Homo sapiens: one gene and its partner. The protein of the gene in region 1 interacts with the protein of each later gene in a pairwise test. Each region holds a gene or a part of one and is shown on either strand. Other genes may lie near its edges.

Region 1 (15,611 bases):
CCAACACTTGCTGGTTTTAAAATAAATGTTTATTATCTTATAGTTTCTATAGGGCAGGAATTCAGAAACAGCTTATCTGAGTGGTTTGGCTGAGGATCTCTGATGAGGTTGCATTCAGTGTGGCAGGGGCTGCCATGGTCTAAAAGTGTGACTGGGCTGGATGCTGGATCCATTGCCAAGACAGTGCACTCAAAAGGCTGTTAGTGGGAGCCTCAGTTTCTCTCCATGTGGCCCTCTCCATAGATTACTTGGGTATCCTCATGACATGGCTGCTAATTTCCCCCCAAAGCAAGCAATCCAAGAAAGTGTAAAAAAGGAGGGAACCCCAATGCCTTCAGTGACTATGTCTTCTAAGTCCCTTACTGTCACTTCTGCCTTATCCTGCTTTTATGTCCAACTCACACTGAAAGGATAGGTAATTAGATGTCATCTCTCAAAGAAAGGAACATCAAAGAATTTGGGGACGTATTTTAAAACCCTAACACTAGGTCCCCTTCACACATATAATTTATTTTTTTCTTAAGTTATTTTATTTTATTTTATTTTGAGAGGGTCTTGCTCTGTTGCCAAGGCTTGAGTGCAGCGGGGTTATCACTGCTCACTGCATCCTTGACCTCCCAGGCTCAAGCAATCCTCTCACCTCAGCCTCCCAAGTAGCTGGGACCACAGGCGTGCACCACTCTGCCCAGCTAATTTTCTTATTTTTTGGCCAGGCGCAGTGGCTCATGCCTGTAATCCCAGCACTTTGGGAGGCCAAGGCAGGCGGATCATGAGGTCAGGAGATCGAGACCATCCTGGCTAACATGGTGAAACCCCGTCTCTACTAAAAATATACAAAAAATTTGCCGGGTGTGGCGGTGGGCAGCTGTAGTCCCAGCTACTGGGGAGGCTGAGGCAGGAGAATGGCGTGAACCTGGGAGGCGGAGCTTGCGGTGAGCCAAGATTGGGCCACTGCACTCCAGCCTGGGTGACAGAGTGAGACTCCATCAAAAAAAAAAAATTAAATTAATTTTCTTATTTTTCTCCTGTAGAGACGGGTCTTGCTATGTTGACCAGGCTGGTTTCAAACTCCTGGCCTCAAGCAATTCTATGGTCTTGGCTGCCCAAAGTGTTGGGATTACAAGCCTGAGCCACCATGTCTGGCCCAATTCTAAAATTTTTAAATTGTAGATTCCACATAAGTATTCAGATTTTTTTCTTACTTTTTAAAAAAAATATGGTCACACTAGGCCTATGTGCTCACAAAACACTTTATATTGAACACAAACTCTTTAATTTGCCATACTCCCCACCAAATCCTCTGTATTAAACATAGCACACTTATTTAACACATGTGTGTTACCTGCTTGGATGATTTAAAAAGTTGAGTTTAGAGCTAAATACTGATCTAGATTTAATGAGACTGGAAGACATGGCAATGGAATTGAAGAAAGAAGCCTGACCCCTGGTGTGAGTTGAATCCCAGAAGATTGGGAAATGAGACACGTTGTGGGTTTTCTTAGAGTGGCAGCAACCTTGCATTACACCTGCATAGGACTGTAGAGATGACAGGGGCAACTGTGGCGATCTGGGCGTGAGGCAATAGTCAAATAGATTTGGCAGACATTCTTGTGGTGGAACTTGACACTGAGTGTGTAGAGTCACCAGGGGAACCAGCCCCCTTGAGAGGACCATGAATGACCCAGCGTGGATAAAGGCTCGGTGCTGTCTTCCTGAAACTGCCTGAGCCCTAGGTCTGGGACTACCTAAGGAAGGATCCATGTGGGATCCATTAAAAATAATGATATAGAACTGTTAGCCAACTTTGTCAAGGAGGGGAACTCTAATCATATTTAATTTAATGTATAAAAATAAATAAAGTTATTTCCTGTCCCTGGTGTGCCACAGACACATAAATAAGCATTTAGAATGCTTGAAGAGAGCCTACAAGCAGAGGAAAAGGCTTTACAACCTCTCTGGAGGAGACTGTGAAAAGGTGAGCTTTACTAAATTACGGAAATGAATACTGGAGAATGATTAGCCTAATAATAAACCCACAGTTGACAGTGCACTCAAAAGGCTGTTAGTAGGAGCCCTCCGTTTCTCTCCATGTGGATCTCTCCATGGGTTACCTGGGTATCCTCATGACATGGCTGCTAATTTACCCCCAAAGCAAGCAATCCAAGAGAGAATAAACAAGGTCATGCCTGTAATCCCAGCACTTTGGGAGGCTGAGGCAGGCAGATTATCTGAGGTCAGGAGTTCGAGACCAGCCTGGCCAACATGATGAAACCCTGTCTCTACTAAAAACACAAAAATTAGCTGTGCATGGTGGCACGTGCCTGTAATCCCAGCTACTAGTGGTGGCTGAGGCAGGAGGATCACTTGAACCTGGGAGGCAGAGGTTGCAGTGAGCTGAGATTGTGCCATTGCACTCCAGCCTGGGCAACAGAGCGAGACTCTGTCTCAAAAAAAAAAAAAAAAAAAAAAGAGTAAACAAGGAGGACTTGTTTTACTTGTAGTATGACTACAGCCATTCCCCAACTTAAAAATGTTTGTTTGCTCATACCAGATATTTGGAGCTCAGACTGCATGTTCCTTGGTGGTTAAGTCCGCAAGCCAGTTGTGATATGGTGAAATATATATTTGGCCTTGGTCCTCATTTCCTGGCATACAACTCCTAAAATCCTTGGAATCTTCAAAATGATGTGTCTTTTGGTATGCTAATGAGTTGACTGGTGGCCGGCAGCCCAAGGTAGCTTCAGAATGGGGGCTGGTCACAGGAAAGACCAAGTTGTAATTACAGAATTGGGACTCTCAGCCTCACCCCCCTACCTCCAGGAAGGGGAGAGGGGCTGAAGGTTAAATTGATATCAATGGCCAATGACTTACCCAATCATGCCAATATAATGAAACTTTCATAAAAACCCAAAAGGACTGGGTTTGAGAGCTTCTGGATGGCATGCCCAGAGAGGACATGGAAGTTTCGCCCTCCTTCTTCCATATTTTGCCCTATCCAACTCTTCATCTGGTGTTCATTGGTATCCTTTGTAATATCCTTAATAATAAACTAGTAAATGTAAGTAACCTGAGTTCTGTGAGCTACTCTAGCAAATTAATTGAACCTGAGGAGGGGGTCATGGGCATACTGATTTATAGCTGATTAGTCAGAAGTACAGGTGAAACAACCTGGGGCTTTTGATTGGCATCTGAAGTGGAGGAAAGTATCATAGGACTGAATCCTCAACTTGTGGGATCTGATACTGTCTCTAGGTAGATAGTGTGGACACTGAATTGAATTAGGACACCCTACTGGTGTCTACTGAAGAATTGGTTGATTCCTAGGTGTGTGGGGAAAACTCTCATACATCTGGTGTCAGAAGTGTTCTGTGTTGTGAAAGCATAGCAGGAAAAACTGAGAGTTTCTTTCCTATATCCCCAGACTAGTTCTTAAAACCATATGTGCTGGAACTCTGTTATAACACCAGCAATCTACAAAGTGTAACAGTTTTCTTAGAAATTTCAGCCTGGGTTCTACATGGAACGCCTGGGGTACATTTTCCCCAATGCTAGTAGTTCAAACACTGAGTTCTACTCCATCCCTCCCACTTACCACTCCTGGGCTAGCTTGGAGGATGCCACTAGCTTTTTGGTAACAGCACTGGGTGTGTGTTAAAGGAAAAGGAGCTCTCTGTTGGGTGAGTATTGAGAAATTTAGACATGGGACAATGACAGCAAGGCAAGGCAAACAGACAGGAGGCTGGGGTGGAATAAAGGAGGGTAGGCACTCAGCTTTGGAGGCTCTGGAAATTGGGGATGGCAGGGCAATGGTAGATGTTGCTGTTTGAAAGTAGGAAGCTTTCATAAGCCAGTTATTCTTAGGCCAGGCATTGCCTATATTAATTCTCCAATAGACTCTTGTCATACAACATCTGAGCACAGCTCTCAAACTTGGTTGTCCTATGACCTCTCCAGGCACTGACATTGAAACCGCCTTTGCAAAAATTATAACTGAGGAAATTACGACAGTGAAAGAAATCAGACCTAATTGACTCCGTCTTGCTTCTAACCTTTAAGCTGTCCTTGTTCATTCCTGGGCATAGGCTGAACTAACTTTGGGAAGGAATTCAGTTCATGGTTTGACTCTGAAACAAAATTGAAAATAGCCCTTTCTGGAAAAGACCCCCTTCTTGCCTGGGGACCAGTCTACCTTTGCAGGACTAACAAATTAGCTATAAGATTAGAAATTACAGTTTATGGGTCATGTAGCCTCTGGCTCCAAGAGACTGAGCCTCCCCAAATTGCTTCTGGGGATAACATCACTGTTGTACAACCTAAGATCAGTGTTTGAGATAGTTTGCAGACCCTGCACTGGGTGGATCAGCTGACACCACCTAGACTGGTAATCTGGCTCAACCAGTTCTGCCATCCCACCCAGGAACAGAAGACAGCAAGAAAACCTGACTTCCACCCCCTGTGATTCCATCTCCAACCTGACCAATCAGCACTCCCCACTTCCCAAGCCCCTACCCGCCAAATTATCTTTTAAAACTCCAATCCCCAAATGCTTGGCAAGACTGATTTGAGTAATAAAAAATCTCCAGTCTCCCTCACAGCCAGCTCTGTGTGAATTACTCTTTCTCCACTGCAATTCCCCTGTCTTGATAAATGGGCTCTGTCTAGGCAGCAGGCAAAGTGAACCCACTGGGTGGTTACAACACGCCCACCTATGTCTCTTGATAGGCCCTATTGGCAGGATTGAACTTAGCCTAGATTTTTACAGCTGCTCATCTGCTCCCACTCTTGTCCTCCTTCATTCTTTGCACAGTGACCAAAAATAGTCTTTCTGAAATGCAAACCTGATCATTCTATACCCTTAGTAAAATCTTTAATGATTTCCCACCCTTCTCAGGATCAAGGTCACAATCTGAACCCAGACCTGTCTGACTGGCCCTTGCATGAGCTGCTCCTCACCATCTTCCCTGACTCATGCTCATTCTTGAGGTCTCAGCTGACATGCCATTTTCAGGAAGAGCCTCCTGACCTTCTTGCCCAGATTTGGTCCCCTGCTATATGCTCTTGTAACTCCCAGACTTAATCTTCAGAGCACTGACTGCCGTGGTAACTGTTTAGGTATTCAGGTATGGTTTGTTTGATTTATTTAACGTATCTCTCCTCTACGAGGCAATAAAATCCAGAAGCACGTTAACCACACCTAGCATGGGGCTTCCTGGTCCATAAGACATGCTTATTAAAGGGTTGCCCAATGAACCTTTGTGTCTATTATAAACCTGTGGTTCTCCAATTTTAGGGAGCAGTCATTAGTTTTTACTATGCGACATGCAGTGCTAGTTTAGAGAGCAAGGTATGTTAGCTTTGTGGTTAAAAATTAGGGCTCCGAGCCAGAATTTCCTGGGTTTGAAATCTACTATTTGTGTGGTATCAAGGAGGTAGTATGATGTCTCCATTACTCAGTTCCTTCATCTGTAAAAAGGGCAGGGGGATGGTGGACGATAATAGCACCTACTTCATAGGACTGTTGTGATGACTAAGTTGGTTTGATGTGTGAAGTGTTTAGAAGTGTCTGGCACATGGTAAGTATGTGAAAGATGTTAACCTATTCTTATTTACTCCAAATACTGTACAAAATAGATGTGTTCTTATCCCCACTTGTCATATGAAAAAACTGGATGCATAAAATAGACTTTCTTCAATAACTTGTCTAAATGAATCCTTCATATTATCTTTTCATGCTAAAAAAAAATTTAAAAGGAAAAAAGAAATGAACATTCTCACATTTTTGAGAGTTGGGACTTGGAGGCTTTGGGGGTTTGGCAAGTTGAAGACAATAAATCAAAGAAACTAAGGAAGTTTCAAAGCAGTTTCAGGCCGGGGACTGCGCCATCCCCCCTGCACTTTCATATAACAAAACTCAGCATGTTCGTGAGAAGCCCAGAGCGGGGAGGAGAGACACATTTTCCATCGAATCTGTAGTGGAGATGGGGAGCCGCTGGAGCATGACTCAGAGCAGCAGGAACTAGCATCTCCAGGTTGCTGCAGGAAGTGAGAACAGTGGCTCCTAACCAGTGCCCAAGCGCCTCAGGAACTCTGCCAGTGTCTCCAAAGGCATGGCCGTGTCCTCAAATCAAAGTCATTTGATTTCTTTTTTTAAATCTATGCTATGCATCCCCTTTGAGAGGAAGTGAGTGCCAAAGGATACCAAACAGAAAGACTGAGTCACTGGAGTGGCCAATCTTCCTGGAGAGAGATGAGTCCTGCATCAGGCTTCTAAAAAGACATCTGGCAGGGACAAGAATATTCCTGGCAGCCCATTTGTAATGGCTCCAAACTAGAAACAATCCAATGTCTGTGTTAAGTAGAACAGACATCTAAATGGTGGTATATTCACAGAATGAAACCCTATCCAGCAATGAGAGCGAATGAGCCACAGCTACACTCAACAATAGGGACGAATCCCATGAATATACTATCGAGGCAAAGAAACCAAATGAAGTGCAAGCCAATGCCATTTTCATGTAAATTCAAAACCAGGTAATGTGCATCCATGTCAGGTGCTGGAAGTCAGGGCACCTGAGAGGAGGTAGTGACAGGAGGGGCTTGGGGGGCCTCTGTCCTCTTTCTTAATCTGAGGGCTGGCTACTCAGATATGTTCCTTTTGTGAAGTTCCCTGACCGGTACACTTACGTTTTGTGTACTTTTCTGAAGAATATGTTCTATTCCAAACCTTTCTCCATTTTCTCCTACGCTGCTACCTCCATGACCTGAAGTCAAGTTAGTCTGGGAGTCAACAGATAACCCCAGAGTCTGTGTCATTGGAAGCTGGTGCCATACAAATTAGGACGCTTCAGAGGCAGGACGCCATTTTGAGTAGAGCACCTATTTCTGTGGTGCTGGTTCTGAGGGTTAGGGTCACAGCACTGTCCTCACCTAGGTTTCTCTCCTGTCCTCCTATCTCGTCCCAGGGGTGGGCAGCTCCTCTCTCTACTCAAGTGATCTCTATGATACGCTGTGCAACATGGGGCTTTCCTGAGGGGTGAGAGCCAAGGCCATATGCCATTCCTGCTCATGCGTCTCAGTTGGATCCTTCACTTTTAGTCAGGATCCAGATAGGCCAGGACAGAGTTAGAGCTCCAGTGGACTGATCAGAAATCTGTCCTGCCAAACCTAATGGGAGGGTTAGGAATTTCTGCTCCTGACACCCAGTGGGTGGTTTCACAAGTTTTAGAGGGTGACTGTTCAGGTGACTGGCAGCACAAGGAAAGAGGGAAAAGCCTTTTCTGTGAATTTCACAGGCAGGGTTGCAACGCGGTGTGAGCATGGAGCAGCTTGGCACAAGGCAGCCTTGAGAGTCCCCTGGCTGGCTGCGGGGATGATGTCAGATCCCGACTGGATGCTGCCCCATTCAGTCAAAGCCGTGCAGCCTGAAATGGCACATGTCCCCATCCAGGCTGTCTGGGCGGGTCAGCTGGCCTGGAGACAACAACACAGCCTCAACGTGACAGTCCCCACATTCTGCAGACTTAAAAGGGAAATCCTTTGGATTCTGCCTGGACTCCTGGGGCTCAGCCCTGGCCTTGCCTTGAGGGTGCAAAGAGGAGTAAAAATATGGGAAGGCCTGTGTGCAGCTGCAATGGATTCTTCAAGTGATCAGAGGCGGTTTCCTGCCTGTGAGGAGTTGGTACCATGAGCGTCTTGTTCCTTGGGTCCCTCCTTTCCTCTGCTGCTGATGCCCCGCACACCTTGCCCCCTCCCTATTGCTTCTCCTCACCCCACCTCACTCCCAAGGACGTCTGCTTTTTTATTGTGAATTTCAGCTGCCTGCTTGTTTCACCTCCGGTTACTCAAAGGTTTGCCCCAGTGTTTCTCCCCCTTTAAAAGACTCCATTCCTAGGCCTTCCTGCTCCATTCCCTCATGCCCTTCCCTGGCTTTCTCAGATTTTCATTTTCATTTCCCTTCCCATTTCTACAAAGGCAGGATGTAGAGGAAGGCCAGCAGAGGGCAAAGAGCCCGAGAGCCGGGATCAGGAGACAGGAACGTGTTGGCGTGTGGCTCTAAGCGAACCAAAGAGACTGTCTCTGGTCATCCGTGTTCCCCACTGTTGGTGAGGCTGGGTCACCCAGGCCAGAACTCAGTGCCATGGGTTGTGCCAGTGTTGGTGCTGTGGCGGATGCAAGGAATGGGACTCTGCTCTGGCTTGTGCACACCTACCGAGTAACAAAATCTTCATGTCTCTCTCTGATACATGCACACATATTCAGATAACTAGATAGACAGGGAGATAGATAGATATATGGATAGATTAGATAGATAGATGATAGATAGATAGATAGATAGATAGATGATAGATAGACAGATAGATGATAGAAAAATATCTGTCAGAATAAAAACATAATCCTATAGGCCAATAAGGACTCAATCAAAATCTTACAGGGTCACTGAATCAGAATCATTCTTCCCCTGAACTCACTTTCATGACTCTTTGCAATCAGGTGTATCTGTCCACCCCATTTTTTTCACAGTTGGGTGAAATGAGGAAGTAGTGTAAGGCTGGTTTTTCTTTTGCTGCCACAAAGGTCTACATAACTGCTGGTTCCTGTTCACAGTGAAAATGGTCCTAACCAGATGAATAAGGGACACAAGAGACATAACACAAATCAGAGAAGTTAAAACCAAGCTTATTCCTAAGTGCAACTAGCCTAAGCAAGCTCATGCCTGCCTGCTGAAGCCCCAAGTCTTCTACCTTGATAAAGGTTACTCCCTCCATTTTAACTGCTCCTGCCTCCCCTATCTTTTTTCGAACACCATGGCTGATTTATCTAAACCCTATGCTGCTTCACAGTATTTTGAAAACAAATTAGAAATCTCCTTCCAGTTTTCCAGAGGTGATTAAATCCAAGACGCCTTAGGAATGTAGAGGATAGAATAATATAAACAACAGATCTGAGATAACCATGGCCGGCAGCAGTTGTGGTTAGTTGCTTCTTTTCCTTTTTCATCCATCAGTGATGGAAGCTGGATTGGGTCCACTGTATAAAGTTCGGTGGGCATAAATCTGCTATTTGATCCTGGAAAAACTCTAAGGATCTAGAGTCAGCGAGGAATTGCAGCAATGCTGGTGTTTCAAAGGGCCTAAGAAAAGCCAGGAGTCCTGGCTGCCCAGCCCCGACACTGTCTTACAGGCTGCAGGTTTACCTTGGTTAGCACAACAGGCCAAGCTCTCCCTTGCTCTAAGTCGACATGACATGATTTGTTCCCTTTCGGCTGTGTCAGTTCTGCAAACCAGATACCAGAGGCTGCAGGCTCAGGAGAGCCTGCCTGTCTGGAACACCGTTTGTTTGGACAGGACAGGCCACTAAGGCGTTTCATCTCTTTAAAGCTCCCAGGGCAGAGAACATATTTGAGGAATTCCTTTTTTCAAAGATTTTTTTTTTTTGCCCCTTCCAACATTTTGTTTAAGAGAAAATGAGATGTCTATCTTCTGTTTCCTTATTTTTTTTCAGGAAAGCAAAGGGTTGTTGACTTCCTCCCTCTCCCCTCCCTTCCTTCCTTCTTCCCGAAGGTACTCATCTGAGAAAAAGAGAACGAAGTATTGTTCCTGTTCTCTTTCTTAAGTCATTCGAAACACTGTCCCTGCGAGTTCTTTAAGTTCCCTGCAATCTGTACACAAGAGAAAGAGGGAGAGAGAGAGGGAGAGAGACAGAGAGAGCAGGGATCAGGTAAAGGAGTGGGGCTGCTGCAGCCATTCAGACCTCAGGAGCTGGTAAGTTACCCATGCAATCATTTCTGCTTCCTTTTCAAGGTTCCTGGGTGGATACTGCTGTGGGCATCTTCAACAGAAAATACCTTACTGGGAGTAGTCCTTAACCAAAGGGTATAAGTGATAGATGGCCCAGAATTTCAGCTAATACTTTTTTTTGGTAAGAGAATACTGATGCTTTGCAGAACTAAGGCTGGCAAAACTAGAAATAGAATTACATTGGGACTAAAGAGGACACTGCGTTAAATCTGAATTTTGGCACAGATCATGTGGCTGGGAGAACCAGGAGCCACTGGCGTGTGAGATGTGTCCCACTGGAGAATTTGCTCTTCCTCAGTACTGTGTCCTGGGAGCCTTATCAGGGTGTCTGTTAAGGACTGTGGTTTGCTCTGGGGTTTTTGTTAATACGTTACCTGGATTGAGGTGCCCTTCTCCTGTTCTTTTCTTTCCATTCAGCATCCCCCTAAAGGAGGATTGTTAATTGTTATATGATGGTTATTCTGCATCACTGAAGTAGAAGGGAAAGAGAGAAGGGAATGTCACTTGGAAATAGTTCTGCATGTGGGGAGCTTATGTGTTCAGGTTCCCCATGCGGGTTGAGTGTAAATTTATTATTCACTGTCAGTGGAAGATGTCATCTGCCACATGATAGAAGGCAAAGGTTTTGGGGCATATAGCTTTAGTTTTGGAAAACAATATGCAGCTAGAATGGGAGGATTAAGATGGATCATTTATGTCAGTAGGAGGGAAAAACTAAGTTACAGACGCAATTGAAAAGCATTCACCCAGTGCCTGGTTTTCCAAGCACCAAATAGGGCGTAGCAAGCTAGTCAAGCTAACATACACAACTAGTTTTTAAAAGTCTAACTTGCTTCAATTAGATTAGTCATAAAGGATAATGTTACCAGCACCTATCATCGCAAGCCATGAGGGAGCCGAAATCATGTTGTCAAAAATAGGTCAGCAAGGTCACTCCGAGAGACTCGTTATGTTTCCCAATATTAATACTTTAATTCAGAGAGATGCCGAATGGGTAAAAGCCAATGGCCAAGCATACTTTTTAAAAATATTCACTGCTATGAAATTTACTGATTGAAATCACCTGGGATGTGAAGAATAAGATAAAAATAGCTGGACTCTCATTTTAAAAATTAATTTGGCTAGACTATGCTTTAACCACATTCAAGTAATTAATCTTTATTCAAAATTGAACCATCATCTTACTAAGGATGAGAAAACATGACAGAACTAGACTGTGATGTAGCTTTTGTTCCATTAGTCAGACCTCTTTTTTCTTCTCCTTTTTTCAAGGATTTTCTTTAGGAGCATCATAAAACGAGCAATGTAAAGAGACGTGAATAGCGTTTGCCAGCTTGCGGATGCAAAATTATTCTAATAACAATTGAAAGTGTTTTACTGCTACCCTACCACCTCCCCTAACTACTCCATTTCCATAGATCTTCAGATCAAGAGGTAGCTGGAATAGATTGTCGAGGGCATTATTGCATCATTTATCAGCAACTGTGGCCCCAGAAGAAAACGCAGGTCTGCGATCTTGACTTGCTCCTTTCAGTTTCATTTCTCTTGATAATGTATTGAATTTTGTGCTCAACTAAAACAACATCACAGAACACATTCTAGTTTTGTTTACTGAGTAAAAGCATCAGATGCAACACAATAGGAAACAAATGACAGCAGAGTCATTTGTTAAAGACAAGGAAGGCAATTAAATTAAAGACAAGGAAAGCACAAGGTGGGTAGGCCAGTGGCTCAGAAAACAGCCCCACTGCTAGCATGACTATGGCTTGAGATTAAGAAGCTGAGGATATGCAGTTTTCTTTTAAAGAAAAAAGTGTATTCAATATTTCCATTTAAGTTGTTAAGTCATTGCTGTGAAAATATTTCTTGGATACTGGGGGAAATGAATTTTAGCTACCCGAAGAATAAAAGCCATCGACTAGTTTCATCGAAGTCACTACCACTCAATCTATCTTTACTCACTCACCGCCAAAGAGTGAGTTGGCATTTGTGGAAACTTCCAGTGTGTGATTATTTGGGGGTCATCAGAGGCTCTTTTGTGATATCATTGGGGGAATTCCAGTTTGAAGTGATCCAGAATTTGAGACACACAGTATTTTATTCGTTAATTTCTGCCAAAACTGTACACATAACTAAATTACAATTTCTTATACACATTTTAAATTATGTTAGGATGTGTGTCCTGTAGATCTGTGTGCTGGGATGTGAGTCAAATTAGAGTGAGTAGAGCACAGTCTCTGTTGTTGTACTACTTTTGGTTTGAATTTCAGCTTCGTTGCCTACTGTTTATGGGCCTCGGGGCAGGTACTTAACTGCTCTAAATCTCAGTGTCCCCAAATGTAAAATTGCGTCAACATAATGGAGTTGTGAGAATTAAATACAACTATCGGCATAAAACACTTAACATAATGTTTGGCAAGTAGTAGGAGTCAATCAGTGTCAGTTATATATTTTTTAAGGGTCATATATTAACACTGAAGAGTACTGTATTTTGTTAATACAGAGAACAGAATGAGTCTCCTATAATTTGTGTCATTATTCTTGCTTAATACTATACCAAGGATCTATCAGAGCAGATATTATTCCTCACAGCTTTAGAGTTGGGCACACACTGAGTGAAGATATTCTAAATTCTAAATTCTTATAAAATAAAAGAGTGTAGAGTTTAATGTATTGATATTCATCTTCACGAATGGCAGAAATGGCAGATTTAGCTTCACTGAATGCAGCTGTATTCAACACAGCTCAATGCAGGGGAAAGTTTGTCTCGGGATAAAAGTTTTCAACTTAGATGAACGTGCAAAGAGAGTTCAGTTATATTGTGGACATTTTATTCTCCCTTTCACCCACTTCCCCAACTGCTTGAGCTCTGTGTTATTGGTGACCTTTTCCCTGGTTGTGGAGGGCTGGAGACACTTTTTTTGGAGACCATCGTGGTTGTACCATGACTCAGCTAAAGAGGAAAGGACTTAAAGTGACACATTCTCCTCCTGCCCAGGGCTGAGCACACTTGGGGTTCTCTCTCCTCAAACATTGTAACAGTGAGCCACTCACCTTCACACAGAGAAACAGAACACTATATATCACCATGGGTGTGCGTGTGTGTGTGCATGCACGCGTGTGTGCGCGCGCATGTGTGTGTGCGTGCGTGTGTGCGTGCGTGTGTGCATGTGTGTGTGTGGTGCCTGATTGATCCAACTGCTATTTTTCTTTCACTCTAAACTTTAAAACCTGTATGACCGTTAGTTTGTCAAGTAATAATGATACTTTTACTTAGGTCTTAGTTAAATTTCTCTCCACTTTCCAAAAGCAAAACACACAACAGCAAGAATAACAAAAAATCTACCACCAATAACCAAAGCCATTCAGGTCCTTTTGTTAGACTGAGAGCTTGTGAAACAACAGAGACATGTTTGGACACTTAACCTTAGGGACAAATCGAAGCTGAGTTGTTCTGCACTAACGTGCAAAAGGTGCCCTCTCATGTGGCTTGGTGGAGTAGAAAAAGACCAGATTGGGAGTCAGAACACTGCTGTTCTCATCCAATCTCTGCATTTCCTATATGCATGACTTGACAGGTTGCTTTACTTGCTTGGATCTCAATTTTCTCATCTGTGAAATGACAAAATGGGATAAATAAGTAATTTTCGAGGTGTGCGTGTGTGTGTGTGTGTGTGTGTGTGTATTAGAATTCACCTACGGGCTTGTTTATAGTCTCCTCCTGCCCTGTCCACTTCATGGGATGATCTGTGAGACCCTTTTGCTGACATGCTGTGATTCTCCAAAACAGATGGTCAGTGTCTTGCTCCGTCTTCTTCTGGATGGCATTAACATTAACTGTAAATGCTCGTTTTAAGAGCCATGCTTTTAAATGGAATTCCTATTCAGCACTGGATGTTCTCTCTAGAAGATAGTTCTGAGTATATCAAATGTTATTTTAGAAGCTATTAGTATTATGGAATAAGGAATGTCCTAGCCGGTTGAGCAATCTGATGATAATGATCAGTGTTCTAGAACCATATGTAAATCACAAGATCAATTACTTAGATCTGTAAACATTATAAATCAATATAAATAGCACTTTTTTTTTGAGACAGAGTCAGGCTCTGTCACCCAGGCTAGAGTACAGTGGCACAATCTTGGCTCACTGCAACCTCCGCCTCCCAGGTTCAAGTGATTCTCCTGTCTCAGCCTCCCGAGTAGCTGCGATCACAGCTGCCCGCCACCACGCCTGGCTAATTTTTTGTATTTTTAGTAGAGATGGGGATTCACCATGTTGGTCACACTGGTCTCGAACTCCTGACCTCAAGTGATCCACCTGCCTTGGCCTCCCAAAATGCTGGGATTACAGGCATGAGCTACTGCGCCCGGTGGAATAGCACTTTTTGATTTATCCATTTCTATATTATTTGCATCTTAGAGTGAGCATGTATTTGTTAATCAAGAAAAACACAGATACTAAGCTTTTTCTATTCCCTTTAAAAAATATTAGTAGATTCTATCTCATAAGGTTTTGTTTCTTATTTTTTTACAACGTGTGCTGTGATGAGCCTATTTTACAAGTTAGATCCTTGTCCCTAATTTAATGGTGATGTAGAAAGGCAAAAAGATTGATAATGGTGTTTGAAAAATCAGCATTCACAGGTCATATTGTATGCTTCAATTATAAGGAAAATATAAACCTTATAGAAAAAGTTGTTCTAAATTTCCTGATTGAGTTTTTACCTAAATCACTCATTTTTTTCTTATATGTTTATATGGATAATGAAATAAAGCAGCAATGGACACAGATCTCCCTCTGACAGGAACATAGAGACAGCAAATAATTTTAATGTGCACCCTCAGAAACAACTAGCCTAATGAAGGCTGTTCTTTTAGACTATTCAAAAACCAAATACATTTACATAAAACAATGGTATTTACATAAAAGAATAAGAACATGTCTTCATCCAGCGTTATGTGTAATACATAAGTTCACAAGAAAGGAAGCAGCATGAGGACAGGGACTTTGTTTTGTCCACTGCTGTCTGCCCAGGGCCTACAATAGCACAGAGCCTGTCATAGATGCACAATAAATATTTGTTAAATAGATGAGTTAATGAATCAGTGGGCTGTAGAATGAAAGATGCTATCTTTATACAATGCCAAATGAAGCCATTAATTTGAAAAAAAAAAGTTAGTCAAACTTTTCTGGAGTCTAGACAATGCCAAACTGCCAGCTTGATGGATTTATCCCTCACCTGAATTGACTGGAACTATATGGGCTTGTTCTGCTGTTGTGTGCATGGGGCTGCTACATGTGTATTAAAATGTCGTCTTGGCAAGCACCCCCACCCATTTGTTCATGGGAAATTAACATTTATCAGATAGATACACAGAAAAGACTGTTGTTGCATTTTATTTTCCATTTATTTTCTGGGCAGATGATGGGTTTGCAAATTGTTTTTGGCGAGACAGAGAACGGTCATTTGTTTTTCCTTGACTAAAAGAGCTGTGAGCCAGGATCCAGCCTTGTAGGAAGTGTTCAGCTCTCTGGTTTGTTATAGGCAAAGGCTGTGAATCCAAGCTAAAGGAATGCCACTTGGGCTGAATTGACAAAACACCATGGGGTAAATTCAGGGAGAGAAATGTGATACCCTTGTTGAGCACAATACCCTTTCCTTTCTTTAATTCAAGCCAATTGAAGAAGGCCAAAACCACTGGATCGAGTCAGTTTTATACTTATTTGGCAAATTTAAAGTGGCAAATCTAAACACCTAGTAACAAAAGTTGGGATTTTGGATGATGCTTTTTACATTTAACAACATTGGGGTT
Region 2 (15,527 bases), on another chromosome or scaffold:
AGTGATGACAGCCAATAAACAGCATGGCAGTTTCATTTTATTACCTTGCTCTTATTAATTTCTACAGCTCTGATCAATATAGACATTGGCCAGGCTTCTGAGTTACGAAACAGTAGCATTTTTGAGGCTTAGTGAGAGAGGCTTCATTCCAATTTTTTATTCGTTTACAAAACCTTCCTTGGGGTGTTGGCATAATCAAATGTAAGTTCACAAATGTTTCTCCTGCCTCATCTCTGCATATGAGCAAAATGAGTTTATTCCCAAACAGCCCCTGGAAAATGCCCAGGACAAATGATTATGCAGTGAAAAGTAAAATTATTTCAGCCAGTCTTTCTCTATCTTCCACAGAAGAATAGACATGAATACTCTCTCAGCACTGCATACTGAGGCCACAAGTGATTAATCTGCTGAAACCACAAAGAAATAAAAAGTTGATAAAAAGGAAAATATTTTCAGGGGCACCTTTCTGCTAGGAGGAGGGGGTTAATAATGTGGTGTTAGATGCATTGACCTTTCTTTTTTAGTCATCTTTTTGTTGTATTGAATATGACCAGATAGTTTAAAACACCGAATTCATTTTGTTGAGTACACATAATTTGTAAATGTTTATAGAGAAAGTATGTATTACTTGAGTCCTATAGCAATTTTGATTATCTGTCATTATTTTTCTTGTGTTATTATAGCTTTCTAGGAGCCAAGATGAAAATTCTGACGTTAATACTGACCACAGACATAGGTTTCTTTGCATTTTAATTAGACACGTGAGTTATTTTAAAATGACTTGGAAAAGGTAAAATCTCTTTAATTGTGATTTAAAAAGACAATATAAAAGAGAAATCTTTTATTTTTTTCTTGATGCTAAACTTGATTAGCAGCTAATCTTATAACAGAGAAAAGTAATTATAAGTAAATTAGACAGGAAACTTGGTTAATGTGACTTACAGTCACTCTGGTAGCCTTTCCAGCCTAATAAGGTGGAGAGCTGATCATCGTGGAATCAGGTTATGTTACTTTATCTGAATTGTGGCAGCAGATAAGAGACCCACTTTCTGAGCATCAAACCTATTAGAGGCAATAACGGCATGCCATGCCGGTGCAGTTACTGAGTTTATTGGCTCACCCCAGAATCAGAGCATCCTAGGGTCGATGAGCAGAAATTCCGTTTATCTCCCCAGCAGACCTGTTTGCTTAGGTTTGCTGGAGTGTTTCTTTTATGATCCCGTCCCTACTGGTTTTTTATTTCAATCACTGTGTGAATGACAAATGCATCCTGCTGGGTCACATTTAGCATCATATTCTCTTTGGCCTTGAGATGTACATGTACTTGGAGGAAACTCAAGGTTACAGGACTTATTTTCTTTATGAACATGTGAAAAATAAGCACAAGTTGAGTGCTCACTCTAGGCAGAGCAATGCACTGGACATCCTCAGCAATAAGTAAGACATTAATGCCATTTGGCAGGTGGTGAAACTGAGGTTCATAGGGATTAATTAATGTTCCCATGGTCACACAGCTAATAACAGCTTGGCAGAAGTCCTCTGACCCATGGTCAGTGTTCTTTGCGCTAAAACAAAGCTTTCTCAACCTGAAGCAACGTACTGCTGTCCCCTACCTCTATGAGTTGTTCTTCAGAAATGCTACTTTGTCAAATTTCCTGTCGCAGATGGATGTTTGTGATTATATTTTCTTTTCACCTCACTTATCTAATGTATTCAGGAGGTCTTTTGTGTGATGTTTGCTGGAGCTGCAATTAGCAATGCTCAGTTATTTACAGTGAGAGCTGGAAGACTGAAGCTAGATATTTGTGTTTGATGTTAGGGTTGGGAATTTGTTCTCCAAATCTTGTGTGCTTGCTCTCTGTACTGGGGCAGAGTTGGGGGGTTTGCATAAACCCTGGTCTCTGCTTTTGGAGAGCTTACAGTTTAGTTGAGAGGGAGAATGTTTACACCTACTAAGATGAAGTAACAATTAGCTGAGATGTGCAGCAGGCAAAACCATATGTTCCACATTCTGTGCTAGGTATTGGTCTCAGGCATTTGTGCTAAATTTTGCTTTAATGAATGAGCAGGTCTTCAGGGGAGGGAGCTATCACTGCGAACTTACGAGGACAGAGAAGGTTTGGGAGTAGAGATGGGTCTTAGGCTTTACAAGATGGTGAGGCTTGGATTGGTGGGGGAGTGGAGGTGGAGTGGGTTGGAATTGTGAAGGGCCTTATGTGTCAAGCAGAGGAATTTGGGTTTGGAACTCAAGGAGGCTAATAAGGAGCTACTGTAGGTTATTGAGCAGATGGATGGCTTATCAAAAGTAGTGCTTGCTCTTCTGTATATGTGGGGTTAGATTGGCATTGAGGAGAGACCCTGTAAACATTTGTATTTTGGTGTAATGAAGTAGAAGCAGCAGTTTTGTCAAGTCCAGGTCAATTTATTTTGCTGTAGCAAGTTAACAGAAAAATAAGGTGTTAATAAGAAAAAAATAAGATGTTAATAAGAACATATTTTCCCTGTGTTACTTCCTGGGACATGGTTGCCTTGGTGGCTGAAGACAGAATTAGCATGTTTAATTTTTACTATCTATGGCTTCATAAACAATTTACTGTTGATATAGGGACAGAATATGGATTATTATCCTAGATTATACAGGTTGAGTGAGTCTCCCTTATCCAAAATGCTTGGGACCAAAAGTGGTTTTTTATTATTTTATTTTATTTTATTTTGTTTTATTTTTTTATTTCAAGGAGTTTTTTTTTTTTTTTTTGGATTTTGGGATATTTGCATTATACTTACCAGTTGAGCATCCCAGCTCTGAAAATCTGAAGTCTGAAATGCTCCAATGATCATTTCCTTTGGTAGGAATGTCAGTGCTCAAAAAGTTTGCAGGCTTTGGAGCATTTTAGATTTTGTATTTTTGGTTTTGGGATACTCAACCGGTATGAGGGTGAGCCACATGAAATTTGTTTTTTTATGGTTCAAAATTGGTAGAACTACCAGCAATTTCATATGGTTCCATTTTACTGATTTTGTAAGTAAAGGTGTTGCTGGAGCTGAGTGGACTCGGGCAGGCCTGTGGCTTTCTAGTAAGGTTGATTGGGTTAGGTTCTGGACAGTGGTGCTTAGTGGGAGACTGAAAGTACTCTGTGTGCAGTTGTCCTGGGGCATGAGCACGTTCCCGGAGACTGAGCCCCAGGCCTAAAGGATATGCTGTGCTCTTTCTGCTGTTTGCTCTCCCTGCCCATGGACCAGGCATTCATAGTCTTCTTATTTTTTTCCTCTTACCTGTAAAGAAGAAAATTTTGCTCTAGACTACTTTAAAAGAGGAAAGAGGTCTTGTGGAAGAGAAGATAAAAATCAGTGCATCCGAAGGTTGCATTTTCCTGGTGCTTCCCAGTAGCTTGAAGCAGTCATAGCTAGAAGAAGTGCAATTTCAGTAGGACCCAGTTATGCTGAGGAGGTGGAGACTGAATTGTCACTTTTGCTGCAGACCAAGGAGCTTTTGAATAAGCTTGTGAATGCCCAGGCAGTGGAATGAGCATGTCTGATGTTGGTGTGATGGAGGCTGAGCTGTTCTCTCTTTACATCCTTTTACGCCATGCCCTGGGATGGAGGCTGTTCTTATGGAGCTTATTCTTTGTTCAGGGATGGGATGTTCCCAGATTGTTCTCCTAACCACTAGGGATCAGGGCAAGTTTTGAGGTAGGGTCTGCTGAAATTGGCTGAGCACAGAAATCCCAGAGAACACATCCCCTCTTCTCCCTACCCAGCTCTGGGTACCATTGTGCCAAGTCATCCATTACCACACTCAGATTCTACAGTTCCAATGTTTGGGAACTTGAGGCCACTGGTCCTATTGTAATTTGGGCCTCTTTGTCACTCTATGTCAACACTCAATACATAAAGCCCATTACTGTCAGTCCTGTTTCATGAACACTGCTTTATGCCTCCCTGACATCCCATCTTGGACCTTTTAGGAGGGTTCAGGGGCTTTCCTGAACCTCCTTCTATGCTAAATGTTCAAACATCCTTAAGGTATTCACTGAATGTTCCTTTGTCCTATTGGTTCTCCCCTGAGGATCCCTCTCCTATTTCTTCCCTGTAATGGATAATTCTTCCTTTCCAGGGACTATAGATTTTGAAGGTAGAGCTCAGAATTTAGCTCCCCAGGTCTGCTTCAGAGCTATTATTTTTCTTCCCTCCTATAACACCTTTCCTTAGCTGAGGCTTATATCATCCCATGATACAATATACACCCTTGCTTTGCCACTGTCATATAGTGGCTGACCATTCATTTCTCCATGTTACCAGTGTCTTCCTCTCCACATTGAGTCTTACCTTCATCTGTGCTGACCTCAGCGGCCGTGTGGACAACTGGTCCAGCCCTATGTCATGGTTCCTTTGCTATGTACTGGGTGGCCTCTACCTCATTAGGTGTTGAAAACCCAACTCAAATCTTGTCTTCCTAGCACTCTTGGTTGCTCATTCTCCTGGTACTTCCATTGGATTTCATTACATCCTCTTTATGCCTCTAGGTTTTCCTGGTAGGTCTGCCCTCTTGTGACCACAGCCAGCAGTTGATCCTTTGGGCCTGCCTATCCTTTTCCCACATCTGCTTGGAAAAGCCTCAGTCCAGGATATAGGCTAAAATCTCTTTCTCTGTCCCTATACAGGGTCTTCTGAGAAAATAATCAGGACTTCATTTACTTAGTCTGACAGTATGTATCAAGGATCCTACTGTGTGTGAAGCACATAAGAAAAACCAACAAGAACACCAGCCCTTTTGTGCACATGCGTTTGACAGTCACCTTCCTGACACCCTTCCTCAGTTCCCCAATGCAGGAAATACAAACTAGTATTCCTTCTGTAGCTCTCTTTCTTTCTCTCAACATCAGCTATCTCAGACAAAAATGGAGGCAGATTAATTAAAGAGGCTGTGAGAAGAAAGGGATAACAGATGTCCATATGTAGTTTAACTGTAAATGTGATTGTTAAGCTCATAAATTTGTGGTGTGTGGGAAGATCAGTATCAGCCACTACCTTGTCATCTCATCTGACACCTGCGTCTAGATGGAAATCATCTCAGAACAGATTGTACATTATAATTAAAAAACAAAAAACATTCTGTGTAGATTTGCTGGGCCAAAATCTCATCCTGGCACAACTGGAGTTTCTGCTACAGTTGATTCAAATACACGTATAAATGATTATTTTAAATTTCTTTTTAAAGGAAGCATAAACAGCAGATTCTTCCATGTAGGATATGACATATGGGTCCTGCAGGGTAACTTTAATAATTGTCATCCTACCATTGTGGCTTAACTGAGTTATACTTTCTGTTCTTTTCCAATTTCTCTTCCTGACCTGGATAGAAATTGAGGAAATTAAACCACTCCTGCCTCACCTGTTTTACTCTGGCTGGGTATAGTCAATTAGGAAATACAAAAGTCTTGTTTTATTCATGTACATTCTCATTATTTAAGCTCTGAACCTTGGTTTCTTTACATTTTTTAAATAAGAAGAGGGAAAACCATCTGGACAAGGAAGTTTTTACACCTAGATTGAAACCTTCTTCAATTTTCCTATACTAACTCTAATGCAAGTGAATCTCAGTCAGAGCTTTAAGAAATACCTACCACATCATGTGGGTCCATGAGTTCTTGTGATGCCAGAAGAAGCTGTGCACAGTAGACTTCTACCTTATTGATAGATTATACTACTAATACAGTGAAATTATAATATAAAATAGATATTAAGATCACAAGGACAGTGTTAATAACTAGCAACTATTATGTCCTTACTATGTGTCAGGCACTCTCTTAGGTAAGTTGTAATTTGATCATTTATTCTTCACAAAAACCCTGGGAGGGAGGTGTAGCATTCTTACTTTATAAATGAAAAAAAAAAAAAAAAAAAAAGAAATGCAAATAATTTGTCCAGGTTCACACAAGCAGTCCATGGCCATGCCAGGATTTAAATCCAGATCTGTCTCAAATCCTGTGACCATAACCTCTTCGCATACTGCTCCACCTTGAGTGAGTTCAAAGTCAAGCTGAAAAAAAATGTTCTTGGCAAAGAGATGGGTAAGATTGGGTTTTTCAAAATTCTGGAATGTTCCTGCCTCTTGTTGGTGTTTCATGGGCAGCAAACCTGGCCCTTCAAAGTTCTAGAATGTTCCTGACTCTTGTTGGTGTTTCATGGGCAGCAAAACTGGCCCTTTTTATCTCAGCTGTAGATCCTTGAAGGTCAGTTCACTTTGGGGTAGCTGGAGTTGTGTTTACAGAGTCAGGCCTCACCGTGAGAGGGCTCCTGTATTAGTCCCTTTTCATGCTGCTTATAGAGACATACCTGAGACTGGGCAATTTGCAGAGAAAGGTTTTCTTGGACTTACAGTTAGTTCCACGTGGCTGGGGAAGCCTCACAATCATGGCGGAAGGCAAGGAAGGGCAAGTCCCATCTTACATGGATGGCAGCAGGCAAAGAGAGAATGAGGAAGATGCAAAAGCGGAAACCCCTGATGTAACCATCAGATCTTATGAGATTTATTCACTACCATGGAACAGTATGGGGGAAACTGCCCCCATGATTCAATTATCTCCCACTAGGTTTCTCCCACAATACATGGGAATTATGGGAGTACAATTCAAGATGAGATTTGGGTGGGGACACAGAGCCAAACTGTATCAGCTCCTGAGGTGTGGCCCATCCTGGGGGCCCCTGTGAGGCCTACAGGAATCACTGCAAGCCCAATGCTTACTCTGTTCTGCACTCCTGGTGTAGAGGAGACTGGGAATTAGACCTAAGTATAAAGGCTCTGTCATTTCTAACAGACTCTCAGGAACCACACTTATAAACTGTAATGCTAGAGTCAGTCATCTTTAGTAAAGTTTTGGTGAAGGCTGAGGGCTCTCTGAACCCATCTTAACTAATACTCTGTTGTCCTTTTCTTGTTGCAGGACAGCAAGGCCTATGTGACCATTCTCTAAAATATTTAAGCTCGAGAATCACAGAGCGGAAGCTGCAAGGCTCCTGGCTGCCTGCCAGCCGAGGGAATCTGGAGAAACCATTCCTGGGGCCGCGTGGCCCCGTCGTGCCCTTGTTCTGCCCTCGGAATGGCCTTCACTCAGCACATCCTGAGAACAGCCCTCTGAAGCCCAGGGTCGTGACCGTAGTGAAGCTGGGTGGGCAGCGCCCCCGAAAGATCACTCTGCTCCTCAACAGGCGATCAGTGCAGACGTTCGAGCAGCTCTTAGCTGACATCTCAGAAGCCTTGGGCTCTCCCAGATGGAAGAATGACCGTGTGAGGAAACTGTTTAACCTCAAGGGCAGGGAAATCAGGAGCGTCTCTGATTTCTTCAGGGAAGGGGATGCTTTCATAGCTATGGGCAAAGAACCACTGACACTGAAGAGCATTCAGGTGGCTGTAGAAGAACTGTACCCCAACAAAGCCCGGGCCCTGACACTGGCCCAGCACAGCCGTGCCCCTTCTCCAAGGCTGAGGAGCAGGCTGTTTAGCAAGGCTCTGAAAGGAGACCACCGCTGTGGGGAGACCGAGACCCCCAAGAGCTGCAGCGAAGTTGCAGGATGCAAGGCAGCCATGAGGCACCAGGGGAAGATCCCCGAGGAGCTTTCACTAGATGACAGAGCGAGGACCCAGAAGAAGTGGGGGAGGGGGAAATGGGAGCCAGAACCCAGTAGCAAGCCCCCCAGGGAAGCCACTCTGGAAGAGAGGCACGCAAGGGGAGAGAAGCATCTTGGGGTGGAGATTGAAAAGACCTCGGGTGAAATTATCAGATGCGAGAAGTGCAAGAGAGAGAGGGAGCTCCAGCAGAGCCTGGAGCGTGAGAGGCTTTCTCTGGGGACCAGTGAGCTGGATATGGGGAAGGGCCCAATGTATGATGTGGAGAAGCTGGTGAGGACCAGAAGCTGCAGGAGGTCTCCCGAGGCAAATCCTGCAAGTGGGGAGGAAGGGTGGAAGGGTGACAGCCACAGGAGCAGCCCCAGGAATCCCACTCAAGAGCTGAGGAGACCCAGCAAGAGCATGGACAAGAAAGAGGACAGAGGCCCAGAGGATCAAGAAAGCCATGCTCAGGGAGCAGCCAAGGCCAAGAAGGACCTTGTGGAAGTTCTTCCTGTCACAGAGGAGGGGCTGAGGGAGGTGAAGAAGGACACCAGGCCCATGAGCAGGAGCAAACATGGTGGCTGGCTCCTGAGAGAGCACCAGGCGGGCTTTGAGAAGCTCCGCAGGACCCGAGGAGAAGAGAAGGAGGCAGAGAAGGAGAAAAAGCCATGTATGTCTGGAGGCAGAAGGATGACTCTCAGAGATGACCAACCTGCAAAGCTAGAAAAGGAGCCCAAGACGAGGCCAGAAGAGAACAAGCCAGAGCGGCCCAGCGGTCGGAAGCCACGGCCCATGGGCATCATTGCCGCCAATGTGGAAAAGCATTATGAGACTGGCCGGGTCATTGGGGATGGGAACTTTGCTGTCGTGAAGGAGTGCAGACACCGCGAGACCAGGCAGGCCTATGCGATGAAGATCATTGACAAGTCCAGACTCAAGGGCAAGGAGGACATGGTGGACAGTGAGATCTTGATCATCCAGAGCCTCTCTCACCCCAACATCGTGAAATTGCATGAAGTCTACGAAACAGACATGGAAATCTACCTGATCCTGGAGTACGTGCAGGGAGGAGACCTTTTTGACGCCATCATAGAAAGTGTGAAGTTCCCGGAGCCCGATGCTGCCCTCATGATCATGGACTTATGCAAAGCCCTCGTCCACATGCACGACAAGAGCATTGTCCACCGGGACCTCAAGCCGGAAAACCTTTTGGTAAGCCTTGACTTTTGATGATATGGGAGAGGGTGTTTTTAGAATATGGGATAAAATTGATATTAATTGTTTTATACTCTGTCACCTTTACACACTAGAATTTTACTTTTATGTTATTATAACATACTTGTTCCAGTATTTAAAACTATGGTTATAGGTCATAAGTTGCTGAGATAAATTAGTTTTGATTAACTTACAGAAAAAGAAACCTTCCAATTTAAATAAAATGGAAAATGTCTCTTCATCTCTGGGAGAAAAATGCTTTTGTCTTGATAGTGACTACGTGGACTTAATTTCTTGGCACTTAGGTACTGGGATGCCTACTGATGGCAGCTTCCCCTCGAGGCTTTGTGTGCATCATCCACCCTCCCACTGAGATGCCACTTTGGTCTTTTTGAAGATAATGCTTTGCTAAGCAGCTCAAAAGGTGAAAAGGTGCAGCACTGTAAGGGTCTGTGTAAGGAGTGCCGATGAGGCTGGCTCTGTGGTCAGATAACTTGGGTTTGAATCCTGGCTTTCTTAGTTGCTTGCTCTTAGATAAGTCCTTTATCTTGCTGGACCTTAGTTTCATCATTTTGTAAAAGAGAGATGGTAATGGTGCCTGTTTTGGAAGGATGCCTGCAGTTTGAGTATGGGAAAAAGAAAAGCAACCCTTGACAGCTGGGAGCTGGCCTGACACCCTTATCTCAGCTATGCCATTCTTCTGTTGAGCATAAGCAATTTCACAGATCACAACATCAGATAAGGCCACTCTGACCATAATGGATCAAGACAAAAGCAAAACCCCTTTATACTGATGTCCAAATGCAGATAAAAATAAGAATATTGTCCAAACCACATATAAGGTCACATGTCCCCTTTGTGGCTGCTGTGAGTGACTGACTGCGTTGCTTCATCCTTCCTACCTTCATGTAAGAATTATTAAGATACCTGATTATAGAATTACCCCCACGTGCTGACACTATCCAGCCCAGAGCAAAACCCTGCTTTCATGAATCCTCCCCCAAAATCATCTAACACAGCCCACATATTATCATGAGTCCTTTAAACACTCTCTTACTTTGATTCCCAGATTCCAACAGTACGTGTTCTCCCTTATGACAATGAGTCGGTAAACTTAGTGTGTTTGAGTACAAGTGTGTGCCAGGAGGTCTTTGTCAGGATGACACTGTCACCCTCTGGCACGTTCACCCACTTTCTTCTTTATCGCCCCAATCACCACTTGATAGAGTCTATATTTGCCTTTCTGTCTCCCTCCTCTTATTGGAGAGAAAGTTCCATGACAGCATGGACTTTGTTTCATTCAGATTGTGCTCCCAAACCTAGAACAGTTCTGTCACTTGGTCGACATTTAATACATGTGAGTTGTATGAATGCCTAAAGGCCATACCATGCTGCCTGGGAAACAGCAAGAACTCCATCAGTGGCAGAGACTATCACTATTATTACATTAAAAACAACCCTGATATCAAGGTGAGTATCATGAGTAAGCATTCAAAGTCACATCATTGCAGACAAAGCAATAGTGAATGAGCACAGTGATTTTGATGGGCCATATTTTGGCAGGAAGCTGGGAAGGTGGGGGAAGGGATTTACACTGTTTTCTTTAATTTCCATGGCTGTAAACTCAGCCTGGGGACACCATCCCAGTTGCATTTGCCTGTCTGTAAACTGGTCTCACAAGCAGGTGAAACACTGAGTGAGTCAAGCTAATTATCCAGTGAAATGAGGTCTACATTGACCACTAAGTCGAGCAACCTTGTTTTTGTGTTTTTGTCCTAACTCATAGAATTACAGAAGCAGTTTGACTGGTTGGATGAGGGGTCTGAATTACCATCAAATAACTCTCTTTGAACAATTTCATTTTTTGCATTAGCTGGATGTCTTTTTCCTTTCTCTACTCGCTTTTTGATTCTTCCCGTCTTTTGGGTCTGAGCCCAGATGTCTTCCATGTGCAATGTACTGTACACTCTTTATTATGGACACTTTGCAATTGCAACAGAGCAGTGTTCTTTAACAACTCTCTGCTTCTTTCACCGAATTGTCTAAGCAGGAGAGATCCCTTTCGAGGCCTGAGGAGGTCCCACGAGCTGAACATTTCAGTCATGTGCCTACTATAGCATTAAAACAGTTATACAAGTTCTCAGCTATGTGGAATGAGATGATTTTCTTTTGGAGACAGTTAGCTTAGTTTGCATTTTCTAACAAGATCCTGGAACCAGTTGGTTGAGTCCACCCATCTCTTGGGCAATAGAAGCTCTCATTTGTGTGAAGGGATTTATCAGTTATTTTTGAGATGGAGAAAGTCAGCACTGTTATAGATCACATGGAGGGTGGTTTGAGGAAGTAGGAAAACAGCAAGGAATATGTTTAATATGGACAAGCTACTTGCCTCTGGGTAGTTCTTCATGGTTTAAATGTCAGTACATGCATGTTTTAGTGCTCTGGGGCAATGGAATTGTGTGTGTGTGAGAGAGAGAGAGAGACAGAGAGAGAAAGAGAGGGAGAGAAGGCAAACTACAGAGTGGTTATAATTTTTTCAGCCTAAATGCATGAGCTTTTGTTTATTGGAATTGATCCCAATTGATATGTAGACCCTTTCTTTTTTGTGATTTTGAAGAAAGTCCATATATATATGTGTATATGTGTATACATACATATATATGTATATAGTCCATATATATATATTTCAAATAAAATAACTTTTTTTGTGGTGGTATGGCTTCTTCAGAAACTGTAGAAAGCTGCATATTTGAGCCATCTTATGTGGAATAGGTTAATATATTTGTTTTCCTGTGGATAATTTGTCAGCTTGCATTTATCAAAGTGGACAGGTCTGGCACATTTATAAAACATGTTTATCCTTTTTCTGGGTGAGTAAAGTTTAACATATTGTTATGTCAGAAGTCTAAATGCTATCTGATGTCAGCGCTTTTTGGTTTTTCAGACAGAGGTAGAGATAATGTTGGATTGACAGTTGACTCATTGTCTGGGTTTAGCAAGGTGTTATCTCTAAAGTTGCTGATATAATTACATTGCAAATTTGTTTGGCCTTCTAAGATTTAAAATATTCATAAATATCACATTGGTGACTGCTGTCCATAAGTTGGTGTTCTTCAGTTGCCTTTAATTTAATGTTTTACACTTGTGATAAGCTTTATATTGTCAAACTAATTGTTTCTTCCTTTAATGGATGGCTGCTGTGTCCATTAAGACCTGTCTTTGTTAAGCTTCGGGAAGTGATTATGTCAGAACTAACTTTTGATTACATGGCTGATTGTAAGTGTTGCTGCTTTTAGAGACTATCTGTATGTGCTAAAAGCTCCTAATGAATATAGTAAGCTTTCATGTTTTAATCAACAGAAATATTTATATCTGATAATTGTGCCCTAGAGTAAAATTTTAGGCCTATATTCCTGAGTTTATCTATTTCTACTGATTACATTTCCTGATAAGATGATGGTGCTCTTCTTCCCTTAGGGTTATTTAGACTCCTGAGATCTTACAAAAGAAGTTTTAATTATAAGAATTTCCAGCTTGCAGAAATACCAGTGTTAATTGCTGCTTCTGCCAGTGTGTGCTCCTTGGAGGAGTTGGAATATGCTGGGTGGTGTTGGCTGGGCTCTGGGGAAGGAAGTGGGGAAGCAAACAGGAGCTGGAGTAGTGATGATGATGATTAGACCAGCTCACAGAGGGTGGAAGGGCAAAGGCCAGGTTATTTATAGCTGATGGCTGAGAGATTATATCCAGCAAAGAAAGCTGGGTGAGCAGGATGGGGGAAGGGACTGAAGAGGTGTCAGACATGAACATTGAGCACGGTCATTTGAGAACATTTCTTCCAGAATAAGGGGAAGAGAAGGATGTGTTCCTGCACTGGAAACAGAGTGGAAAGGAATGAGCAGGGTGGGCATGCTGCTACACCTCCACTAGCATATAGGATGTTCATGTCTCCAATTCTGCTACTGCCCCCAGACTAGCTGTTACAGCCCTGGAGTGCTGGGAGCAGAGATCCCTGAAATCCAGGAGAGATGGTGGTGGTGATGGTGGGAACAGGTCTCAGCTTGGTCAAGGACAAAGGTTGTACCCTCTTTCTGGCCTCCTGCTGGTTCTAGGAAGAAACGGGCTTGTCTGTATATTTACTGGTGAATATGACTAGGACAGGGCAGTGACTGGTGTCCCTAAGGGTGGCAGGGAAAATCCAGAAGGATAAAGAGTAGCCGGCCACACTTCCTGCTCATTCTCCCTTTACCATGAACCTGTTCAATCACTTTCTTGGTCTGAATTCTGTAAGTTCTTTTTCTCTTCTATTTTGCTATACAAGAAGGAGTCACTGATTATTGCTATGGTAGTCACTGGTTCTGCAATGCATAATTCTCCTTGATCAGCAAGATTTCTCTTCTAACAGCTTCATTTTCAATCTCCTTTCCCTTAGCTTCCAAGACAGAGGTATTCATGTCTTCTCATTAATAGTCCAAGTATTCATGAATGCATTTATACCCCAATCACATTAATTTAAAAAACTAGTAACAACTATGAAGTATACTTAAGCTCTACTTAATAAAATAAATAAATGTGAATTTCAGCAATAACATGAAATTACCAAAGAAAAAGTACAGTGACACAAGTCTTTAGGTCATTGGCCAATTTTGATCGAGTCAGTGAGAATGCTGTTATGTAAGAGATTGAACTCCTCTGGAGAACTGCGGGGTATATTCTTGTCAGAAATCATTGCAGTTATGACTGTAGGTTTACATTGGTAAGACAGGCTCTCAGTATCCATTTCAGCAATTTCCAGGACAATAATAGTATCTGTACACTCAGTGAACTTATGTATTTCCAGGGTTTGGCCACATAGGCAGAGGTTACAGGAAATTTCTCAAAGTCTTCAAAATTATAGATACTGGATCATCTTGAGGACTGAGGTTTTCTTTCCTCTGTAAGTTACTTTCGAAACATCCACCTAAAAGGATAGGCGTCTAATAAGTTACTGTCTGTAGTAAATTTTCAGCAACAAAAACAATTTTAAAGCATGGTTCCTATTTATCAACTTGGTGGATATCTTCTAAAACTGTGACCTCATTTCATCAAGGAGGCCTGAAGTTCAGGTCATTTGGTAAATGAACATAACAGCACCTTCCTTTAGTCCGCTTAATCCCTGTGTTCATGTATGTTATCACCTGTCTAAAAGAGTATATTCTTGTGAGCCATTTGAGGGTCTAAGATTAACTTTCTTAAAAGTCTTTAAGGGCATTCGGAAAATGCTCTTAAGCTAAGGAAACAGCTTAGTAAATCTCAAGTTTCTGAGGTCTCAGGTCTAGTTGTCTAATTGCAACAGAAACCCTCAGGTTCTGGTTCATCTTGTGGAAGTCCCACATGTTAGGGTTTATGTGAGGGGAGGGAGAAAAGAAGGAGTGAGGAGTCCGCAGCCATGGTCCCAGCAAGAGATGATGGTGGCTTGGTCTTGGGGACCGCAGTAAAGATGGGGAGAAGTGGTCATCCTAAGGGTAAAGACAAGACTTGTGAGTGGATTGAATGCTGTGGATGAGGAAAGAGAAGACTCAAGGGTAACAGATGTTTATGACCTGAAGCTGGATCAGTCGTGGCCCCATCTTTCTAATGGAGGAGGGTGGTTTCTGTGTAGTTATGGGGATAAGAGACTGACTGAGTTAGGATAGAATGGAAGGTGGAATACTGTAGACAGTGTGTATAGACACCTCTTTCAAGGGTGTGTGTGTGTGTGTGTGTGTGTGTGTGTGCACGCACGAAGGAGATCATAGAATGGACAGTAGCTAAAGAGGGATGCAGAGAAAATAAGGGTTGTCTTTTTTTTAAGTTGGGAGATATGACAGCATCTTTATGTGATGATGGAGCCATTCTCTGGGTTGGGGAACTGTGGGAGAGAAGCAGGGTCGAGGTGAAATCAGTTTCCGGCATGTTGAATTTGAGATGATCATCTGATTGGATGACTAGGTGGTGAAGTAAAGTGTACTGTGAAATATGAGGCTATCAAGTTCAGGAAACACCTACAGTCCAAAGTCCATTCCTTCATCAGCTGGGCTGGCCACCTCTGACCAGACACTGGGTTAAAAAGACAGTGCATTACAGTGACTTCTTTGCTCAGAGCTGCCATTAGCTTCCCTTCGCATTCACATTCAGAATAAAAGCCAAGGTCATTTCCATGGCCTGGAAGGTCTTATATGATGTGGACTCCATCTTCCTCTCAAAGCCACTCTCCAGCCATTCAGCTCCTCACTCGCCCTGCTCCTGCCCCTGCTTGCTACATCAAACCATGCATGCCCCTCGGCCTTCACATTTGCTGTTTCTTCTACCTGAAAACTTGCTCCTCACATCTTAATATGGCTCACCCTTGCCTTCTTTCAGATGTTGCTTCCTCAGTGAGTCCTTCCTTAACCACCTTATTAAAAAAAAAAGAACTCCTGCCACTGTGCCAGCATTGCCAGTAGAATTTTCTGTGATGATGGAGATACAGATTTCCTGTATCTGCATAGCCCAATGTGGTAGTCTCTAGCCACATGGGCAGTTCCTCCTGTCTAAGGAACTGCATTTTAAGTTTCATGTAAAAACCAATAGCCATGTGTACTTAGTGGATACTGTACTAGACAACGCAGCCCTTATCCCACTTTTACTTTTTCATAACGCTTATCACTGCCTGAGATTACATATTTATTTGAATATTGTTCATTAA

The links.
Region 2: the proteins of ZNF366 (region 1) and DCLK3 interact in a two-hybrid assay, tested with the Homo sapiens proteins (one study listed by IntAct).

Annotation. Positions count from the first base shown.
Region 1 is NC_000005.10:72,501,401-72,517,011, reverse strand, and holds the start of ZNF366 (zinc finger protein 366), read left to right. Parts: upstream 1-9,601; 5' UTR 9,602-9,761; intron 9,762-15,611. UniProt on the Homo sapiens protein: Has transcriptional repression activity. Acts as a corepressor of ESR1; the function seems to involve CTBP1 and histone deacetylases.
Region 2 is NC_000003.12:36,730,502-36,746,028, reverse strand, and holds part of DCLK3 (serine/threonine-protein kinase DCLK3), read left to right. Parts: intron 1-6,167; exon of another isoform or gene 6,168-6,233; intron 6,234-6,944; coding exon 6,945-8,821; intron 8,822-15,527.